Homo sapiens: one gene and its partner. The protein of the gene in region 2 purifies or fractionates together with the protein of the main gene of each other region. This does not show direct contact. Each region holds a gene or a part of one and is shown on either strand. Other genes may lie near its edges. The genes, in order: DENND6A and RPS6KC1.

Evidence for each region.
Region 1: the proteins of RPS6KC1 (region 2) and DENND6A purify together in Homo sapiens (affinity purification with mass spectrometry; 2 studies listed by BioGRID and IntAct, with this or other methods). This does not show direct contact.

Annotation. Positions count from the first base shown.
Region 1 is NC_000003.12:57,630,300-57,634,223, forward strand, and holds part of DENND6A (protein DENND6A), read right to left. Parts: intron 3,056-3,924; coding exon 2,966-3,055; intron 680-2,965; coding exon 626-679; intron 526-625; coding exon 416-525; intron 225-415; coding exon 122-224; intron 1-121.
Region 2 is NC_000001.11:213,270,966-213,274,889, reverse strand, and holds the end of RPS6KC1 (ribosomal protein S6 kinase delta-1), read right to left. Parts: intron 2,367-3,924; coding exon 2,256-2,366; 3' UTR 116-2,255; downstream 1-115. UniProt on the Homo sapiens protein: May be involved in transmitting sphingosine-1 phosphate (SPP)-mediated signaling into the cell. Plays a role in the recruitment of PRDX3 to early endosomes.

The DNA of each region.
Region 1 (3,924 bases), on a different chromosome or scaffold from region 2:
AAAGTTAGTCATCATTACTATTTATAAAGAGTGGATAAAGGGTACAATCTTCAACTTCTAAGCATAATTATCTTTATTTTCAACAGTTGTTAATCATTACACAAACACACAGTTTTCGAACCTCTTCACAAAGAGCTTCTAGATGGAGTGCCTCCAATTTTTGGGTCATTTCCTTCCTCCGGGTCTTAAACCAGCCATCAAAATTTGGAGACTTTAGGAAATGCCTATAAAAATACATTTTAAAAAAGTAAAGTTTGATTATAACTTATTTCCTTTCCTCAATACCTTTCCTAGTCAGAGAACCATGTCAAACTTTAGTAGAATTTTTTAAAAAGAATAAGCTTAAGTTTAGCTTTTTGTTTTGCTTTTAAATAAAGCACGACACATGGGTGTAAAACAGGGAAAAAAGACTAACCGGTAAAGTCCAATCCAATCGCCTTTTATTCTAGAGGTTAGCTGAGGTCCTGTTTTCTCAAGTGTTTTCATAAATTCTTCTGGAAGAAACTGTCTTAATTGAGGTGGACTCTAGAAAACAGGACATATAATATTTAGAAATTAGGAGTGGATATGTTCACAGAAGTTAATTACAGTTAGAGGACCCAAATAGATTTGAATATATTCATACCTTCCATGGGGAAATACTTTTCTGCAAAGGCATCAAGCTTGCCACATATCTTTCCTAAAACCAAGAAAAAAGTTAATAAAAGGAGTGTCTTCAAAAATATTTAAACAGACCTACTTAAAAGGAATGGGTCTTTTAAGTTTTTAATCATATGCCCTTTCAATGGACAGCAACAACTCCATCACTCCCCACAAGAGATATAGCTAAATTTAGACTGACTTGGGAAGTCAGATTTCAAATAAAAATTCAACTAAATCTTAGATAAACCAAGGGGACTACATTTTTTCTTTTTTGAGACAGAGCCTTGTTCTGTTGCGCAGGCTGGAGTGCAATGGCATGATCTCGGCTCACTACAACCTCTGCCCCCCGGGTTCAAGCGATTCTCCCGCCTCAGTCTCCCAAGCAGCTGGGATTACAGGCGTGCGCCACCACGCCTGGCTAATTTTGTATTTTTAGTAGAGATGGGGTTTTACCATGTTGGTCAGGCTGGTCTCGAACTCCTGACCTCATGATCCACCTGCCTCAGCCTCCCAAAGTGCTGGGATTACAGGCGTGAACTACCGCGCCCAACAACGCGGTCCATTTTTTAACGATAATAGTTAACCTTACTGAGCAACTATAGGCCAGATAATGCACTCAACATTTTACATGCATGATCTCTTGTAATCCTTGGAATGATCCTATGTGGTAGGTATTATTAGGAAACTGAGGCTTCTTCAAAAGGCTAAATAACCTGACCAAGGTAATACAATTTAGACTTGAAATGAGGTCTACTTGACTTTGGTCTCTGCTCTCTTTTTTTTTTTTTTTTTTTTTTTTGAGACGGAGTCTCACTCTTTCGCCCAAGCTGGACTGCAGTGGCGCTATCCCGGCTCACTGCAAGCTCTGCCTCTTGGGTTCATGCCATTCTCCTGCCTCAGCCTCCCGAGTAGCTGGGATTACAGGCGCCCACCACCACGCCCGGCTAATTTTTTGTATTTTTAGTAGAGACGGGGTTTCACCGTGTTAGCCAGGATGGTCTTGATCTCCTGACCTCGTGATCCGCCCGCCTCGGCCTCCCAAAGTGCTGGGATTACAGGCGTGAGCCACCGCGCCCGGCCTTTTTTTTTTTTTTTTTGAGACGGAGTCTCACTCTTTCGCCCAGGCTGAGTGCAGTGGCGCGATCTCAGCTCACTGCAACCTCCGCCTCCCGGGTTCAAGTGATTCTCCTGCCTCAGCCTCTAGAGCAGCTGGGACTACAGGTGCGTGCCACCATGCCTGGCCAATTTTTTGTATTTTTAGTAGAGACGAGACGGGGTTTCACCGTGTTAGCCAGGATGGTCTCGATCTCCTGACCTCGTGATCTGCCCGCCTCAGTCTCCAAAAGTGCTGGGATTACAGACGTGAGCCACCACGCCCAGTCCATGCTCTTTTTTTTTTTAAGAGAGTCTTGCTGTTGCCCAGGATGGAGTGCAGTCGTGCAATCACAGCCTACTGTAGTCTCAAAGTCCTGGCCTTAAGCAATCCTCTTACCTTCGCCTCCCAAAGTGGCAGGCCTGAGCCACTGTGCCCAGCCTAGTCCATGCTCATAAGCACTACAGTAAAGTTTATTTATTCAAACAAATAGATTTAATGGAATAAATAACTTGACACCCAAAGACCAAGAAATAATATTTCTTTCTAAAATATAACAGCAAAGATCTCCAGGATGCCCTATATAATGTTCATAGATATATTACTTTATATTAATAACTGCAAAAAGTTTCTCTATGATGCAGTTTCCAGAGCAGGGCCACATCATGGTACTCCCTATACTTTAATATGACATCCTTCTGAATTTCTTACAATAACCACATTGTCTAGTCATTTATTCCATAAATATTTGAGTGCTACCATATGCCAGTCTGACGAATTAATAACAAGCAAGACAGATATAGTCCCTGTTATCATAGAGCTACAGCCTCATAGACATTATATCAAATTGTATTCAAGATAAGTATCAGAAAGAAGCTCTACTATAATCTTCTTTTAAGGTGAAAAATGTAGTAACTACATAACATTTCATATAAAGTATATCATTTAAGATTCACAACAGTCTTGAAAAGGTACTTAGGAAAGTGGAATCAGCCATATTTCACAGGTGAGAAAATTGAGGGTCAGAGAGAGGGAGTGACTTACCAAAGTTGAACAGTTAACACTAGAACAGATAATCCAGGTCTCTTGCAAAGGGGTTTATTTTTAATCACTAAATATACCAGGCTGGCAAAACACACAACTTAAGATATGGTTTTGGAGGGCGGGAAAAACATTTATATACCCTTCACCAAATCATTAAATTATGCAAAAATTTATTTATTAACTTACTAATGGAATGATGAAACTTTGTGTCAGTTCCAAAAAATAGCGTCGAAGAATAACACTTTGAGCCTCAGAAGGACGTTTCTGTTGTACACCCTTAAAAGAGGAAATAATGAGAATCTGTATTCTAGTGTTGGAATATAAAACAATGGATAACTATCAGATTCAATTGCTATGTAAATATACATTTATACTTGATATTTAAAAAACTAGAACTTCACCTTGAAGTAATTTAATGTGAAGTTCATTGTGCAATATCCTGTGAAAATAATCTTTACCGGAGCAAAACATAAGAGTTCTTAGCTTAGGGAATACTGTTCATCCCATACTGTGAAAATGTGAGTTCACGGCTGGGCACCGTGGCTCACGTCTGTAATCCCAACACTTTGGGAAGGTGAGGTGGGTGGATTACCTGAGGTCAGGGGCTCAGGACCAGCCTGGCCATCATGGTGAAACCCCGTCTCTACTAAAAAATACAAAAATTAGCTGGGTGTGGTGGCGGGCACCTGTAATCCCAGCTACTTGGAAGGCTGAGACAGAAGAATTGCTTGAACCTGGGGAGGTGGAGGCTGCAGTGAGCCGAGATTGTGCTATTGCACTCCAGCCTGGGCAACAAGAGCGAAACTCCATCTCAAAAAAAAAAAAGTGAGTTCACTATAAAGACAATCTTTATTTTATATTTGCTATACTATACTATTTACATTAAAAAAAATGGTAACAGTCCCCTACTGTTAGATGCTATCATGGTAGAATCTATGGCTTTTTCACTATAATTTCCAAGTTTCTAGAAAGACTGACACTCATGTGTAGCTACAGCCCCAAATTCATGCCCATACTGTTGCTAACTTAGTCTCCTGATTTTCATAAAACTTTGAATCAAAAAAGAGACCCTGGCAGGGCACGGTGGCTGACGCCTGTAATCCCAGGACTTTGGGAGACCGAGGTGGGCGTATCACTTAAGGCCA
Region 2 (3,924 bases):
GATGTCGCACAAAAATGTACTTAATGCCACTACTGAAGTGTATATTTTAAAACGGATAAAATGGTGAATTTTATGTTATGTATATTTTACGATAAAAAAATCAAATGAGAAACACTCATGGCAACTTCTTTTATGATTTTGACCCCATATTCCACTCTTCTGCTTAAACAAACAAAATATAAAAAAAAAACAACCACAAAAATCAGTACCATTCACAGAAGTACAGCTTAAAATATGTACACACCATAAAATAAAAACAGACTCTGGTTCATCACCCCAAAGCTATTTATCCTGTGTTTATTACTAAAATAATTAATGTCCATTCTAATTATGAATGATGTATTTACATTAGGCACAAGCTCCAACCAAACATATAGAGAGAAAAGGGGAGAAACTGAAGCAATGGAATTGTGTCAACAGACTGACATGGCAACCATCTGTTGACATTAATGTCCTTTGAATCCAAGAGACTCAAATCATGTGGTAGGGCAGGGATCTTCACCTTAGTTGTGAAGTCCTACTTTCATGTCACAGGGCACTTCTGGAAGGAAGTTCTGTAATGGCCAGCTCTAAGTACTTGCAGATTTCCTACTAGTCCTACACAGGAAGTCATTCTTGTGTCTCACCTGCATAAGTTCCTGTTATGAGGCCAGGGGACTAGTGAGTTGAAATCTAGTTCCAGGGAGTGATGTCATTTTGACTGAACTATGATCCTGGTGACCTGCTCCCCAACCTGGTGTTGTTGCAGCCTTTCAGCTGGGGTTTGGATTATAAGGGGGCCAAAAAGGAAAAAGGGAAATAGAATAATAGAAAAAGGAAAAATGCTTGCACATTTCCTTTGTTTCACTAGAGCATTTTCTGTTCCATTTAATTTGATGAGAGGACCTGGTCGATGGCAGATGGAAGCTGTACAGATGCTCCTGGAGTGGGGTTGGGCTCTCACACAGATCTCAAAAATGCAAAGAAGATTAGAACATATCAAAAATTTCAATTATTTCTGGTGGTTTCTAACTTGGAAATAGTGACTTCTTCTTTGGCTAACGTTTAAAAAAAAACAGATGTTAACACTTTTAAAACATTTGTAAATTTTTGCAACAATGCATAACTACAGGAGCTACCTTAGCAACAAAAAGAAGTAACAAATACAAATGTTTGGAGATGTGTGAATACTTACATTCTTTCTAAATCACGTCAAATAGATTAGTTCAAATCTGAAAATCTCATCACCATAAGTAACAAACTAGGACTGCCATTCAATTCCATTTAGATGAGATCCTTTGCTTCTTAGTATACCAAGCCAAAAAGTAAAACAAAGTCAAGCATGAGAAGCAATGGTAGAAACTGATAATATTTCACAAGGAAAGGAACAGACGCATTTCTTCAAGGAAAAAAAGGGGGGAGGGTTATTAAATGAAGAAGAGATCTAATGTTTCACCATGTTTATTTGATATCATGATTTCTTAGTCCTTACACAAAGGGAAATAAGCACTCCCTTCCCTTTTTTGTTGCATGTGTGTTAGCAGGAGTCGGAAGAACAGAATATGAGGGAACAAGCAGAGGGTGCAGAAAATAGAAAGATGGGGAAAGAAAGATGCTGTTGAAGACACAGAGTGAGTGTTTATATGAACCCTTCTCTAAATAAGCAGTATCAACAAAGAGTACAAAGCTGACAACATGGAGTGTCTTCTTACAGAAATAATCTGGGACCACATTCAACATACATTATACAGCATCAGGGTACAGGTTTTCCGTCAGAAATTATGTGTATATTCTTTTTTCTCGCTTTTAAGTTTCATTGATGACATTGTTCATATACTTTTAGTGTATTATTAAGCAAATATTAATTTAATCATATAAACCAATCCTGGTCAGCAAAAAGCACTGTTAGCTGCCATGTAAAGGTCCTTCTGTCAAGTAAAACTTCATTCTACACTTCTAGCTTCCTATCAGAGGAACTTCTTGAAGGAACTCTTTCAGTTGGCTTTACAACTCATCTGCAACACCAAATGTGGATTAAATTCAGATCACACCTTGGTTGTGTATATATGTATATAACAGCCCCTGGCACAATTAGCTAATATCTTGTAATTGTAAACGAATTGTTCTCTTTTAGCCATTTCCCCCCCATTTCCTATAACGGTCTTTATCCAAATGCTTTGGTGCTCCATAAGTAACTGTGAGTCAGAGGTGCCTCAGTGCTGGAGATGCCTGTCACAGAGAAGATCAGAATGTGTGAAGATAACCCTGCATTACGTTCATCTCATCAGTTCTGCCCAATCCACAGGGGTAAAAAATGGATGAGATTTGATATCTTCAACACCAGCAACTCCAGCACCAAGTCGTTCCAGAGGATTGAACTGCAAGAGCTAAAAAAAGACGGACTTAGTGAGTAACAGGAATCCAACTGGCAAATCAAAGGAAAACCAATATTTGAAAAGAAACAACTTCTAAATTCAACCCTGGTAACAAGCAGTCTTGATTAATAGCCAAGTGACCATTTTTCTTGAAAGGGAGCTATGTCTAATACCATTCTAGCTGTGGGGTGTGAGAGACACCTGAACTGAGTTTATGGCTTTTCAACTGATGGGAAACATGGCCTTGAGTAACTTACTTTGTTTCCCTCATCCTCATGTAATATAATAGGATAGTTATACCTATCAATTTCCTACCCCAAAAGTACACCATGACATTAATTAGATATTGCACTAGATTCTGAGATAGCCAGTTACTTCCTTCATGATTAGAAAATTTGGGAAGCACAGTAAATCTTTCGACCCCTAATCAACTATGTATGTATTGAGACTAAACTTTACCTAAAGTGTGAATAAGCTGATTAGTATTCCAAAATCACTAGTCTTTGGCATAGTTGACACAAATGAAATAATTTAATATAATGAATGAAACAAGTTTTGGTTTCTTCAGAAATAGGAATCATGTGTAAAATAAGTAAAAAAAAATTTTGTGGTTTAATAATGTCAAATTTTTGTGTTAACAACTTTACTGAAGGATAATTTATATAAATTCATCCCTTATAAGTGTACAATTTGATGACTTTTAGTAAATTTAAAGAGTTGTGCAACTAGCATCACAATCCAGTTTTAGAACATTTTTTTTTTTTTTTTTTTTGAGACGGAGTTTCGCTCTGTCGCCCAGGCTGGAGTGCAGTGGCGCGATCTCGACTCACTGCAAGCTCCGCCTCCCGGGTTCACGTCATTCTCCTGCCTCAGCCTCCCGTGTAGCTGGGACTACAGGCGCGCGCCACCATGCCCGGCTAATTTTTGTATTTTTAGTAGAGACAGGGTTTCACCGTGTTAGCCAGGATGGTCTCGATCTCCTGACCTCGTGATCCGCCCGTCTCGGCCTCCCAAAGTGCTGGGATTACAGGCGTGAGCCACCGCACCCGGCCTTTTAGAACATTTTGATTACCCTAAAAAGTTTCCTCATGCCATCTACAGTTAATCCCCACCCCCATCCCCAGCCCTCGGCAACCACTGACCTGCCTTTTGTCTCTATAAAGTTGCCCTTTCTGAACATTTCATATAAGTAAAATAATAAAATATGTAGTCTTTTGACGCTGCCTTCTTTCACTTATCATTATGTTTCTGAGATTCATCCACACTGTAGCAGGTATCAACAGGCCATTCCTTTTTCTTAGTATTCCACTGTTTGGATGTCCACATTTCATTAATCCACTCACTAGTTTTTAGATACTTAGACTTTCCAGTTTGGGGCTATAATGAATAATGTTGCTATTAACGTTCATGTACATGTCTTTGTGTAGACATATATTTTCATTTTTCTTGATTACATTGCTAGAAGCAGAATTGCTGGGTCACATAATGAGCTTATGTTTAACTTTTTATAAAATTGCCAAACTTTTCTAAAGTAGTTGTACCATTTTACATTCCCACAAACCTTTATGTA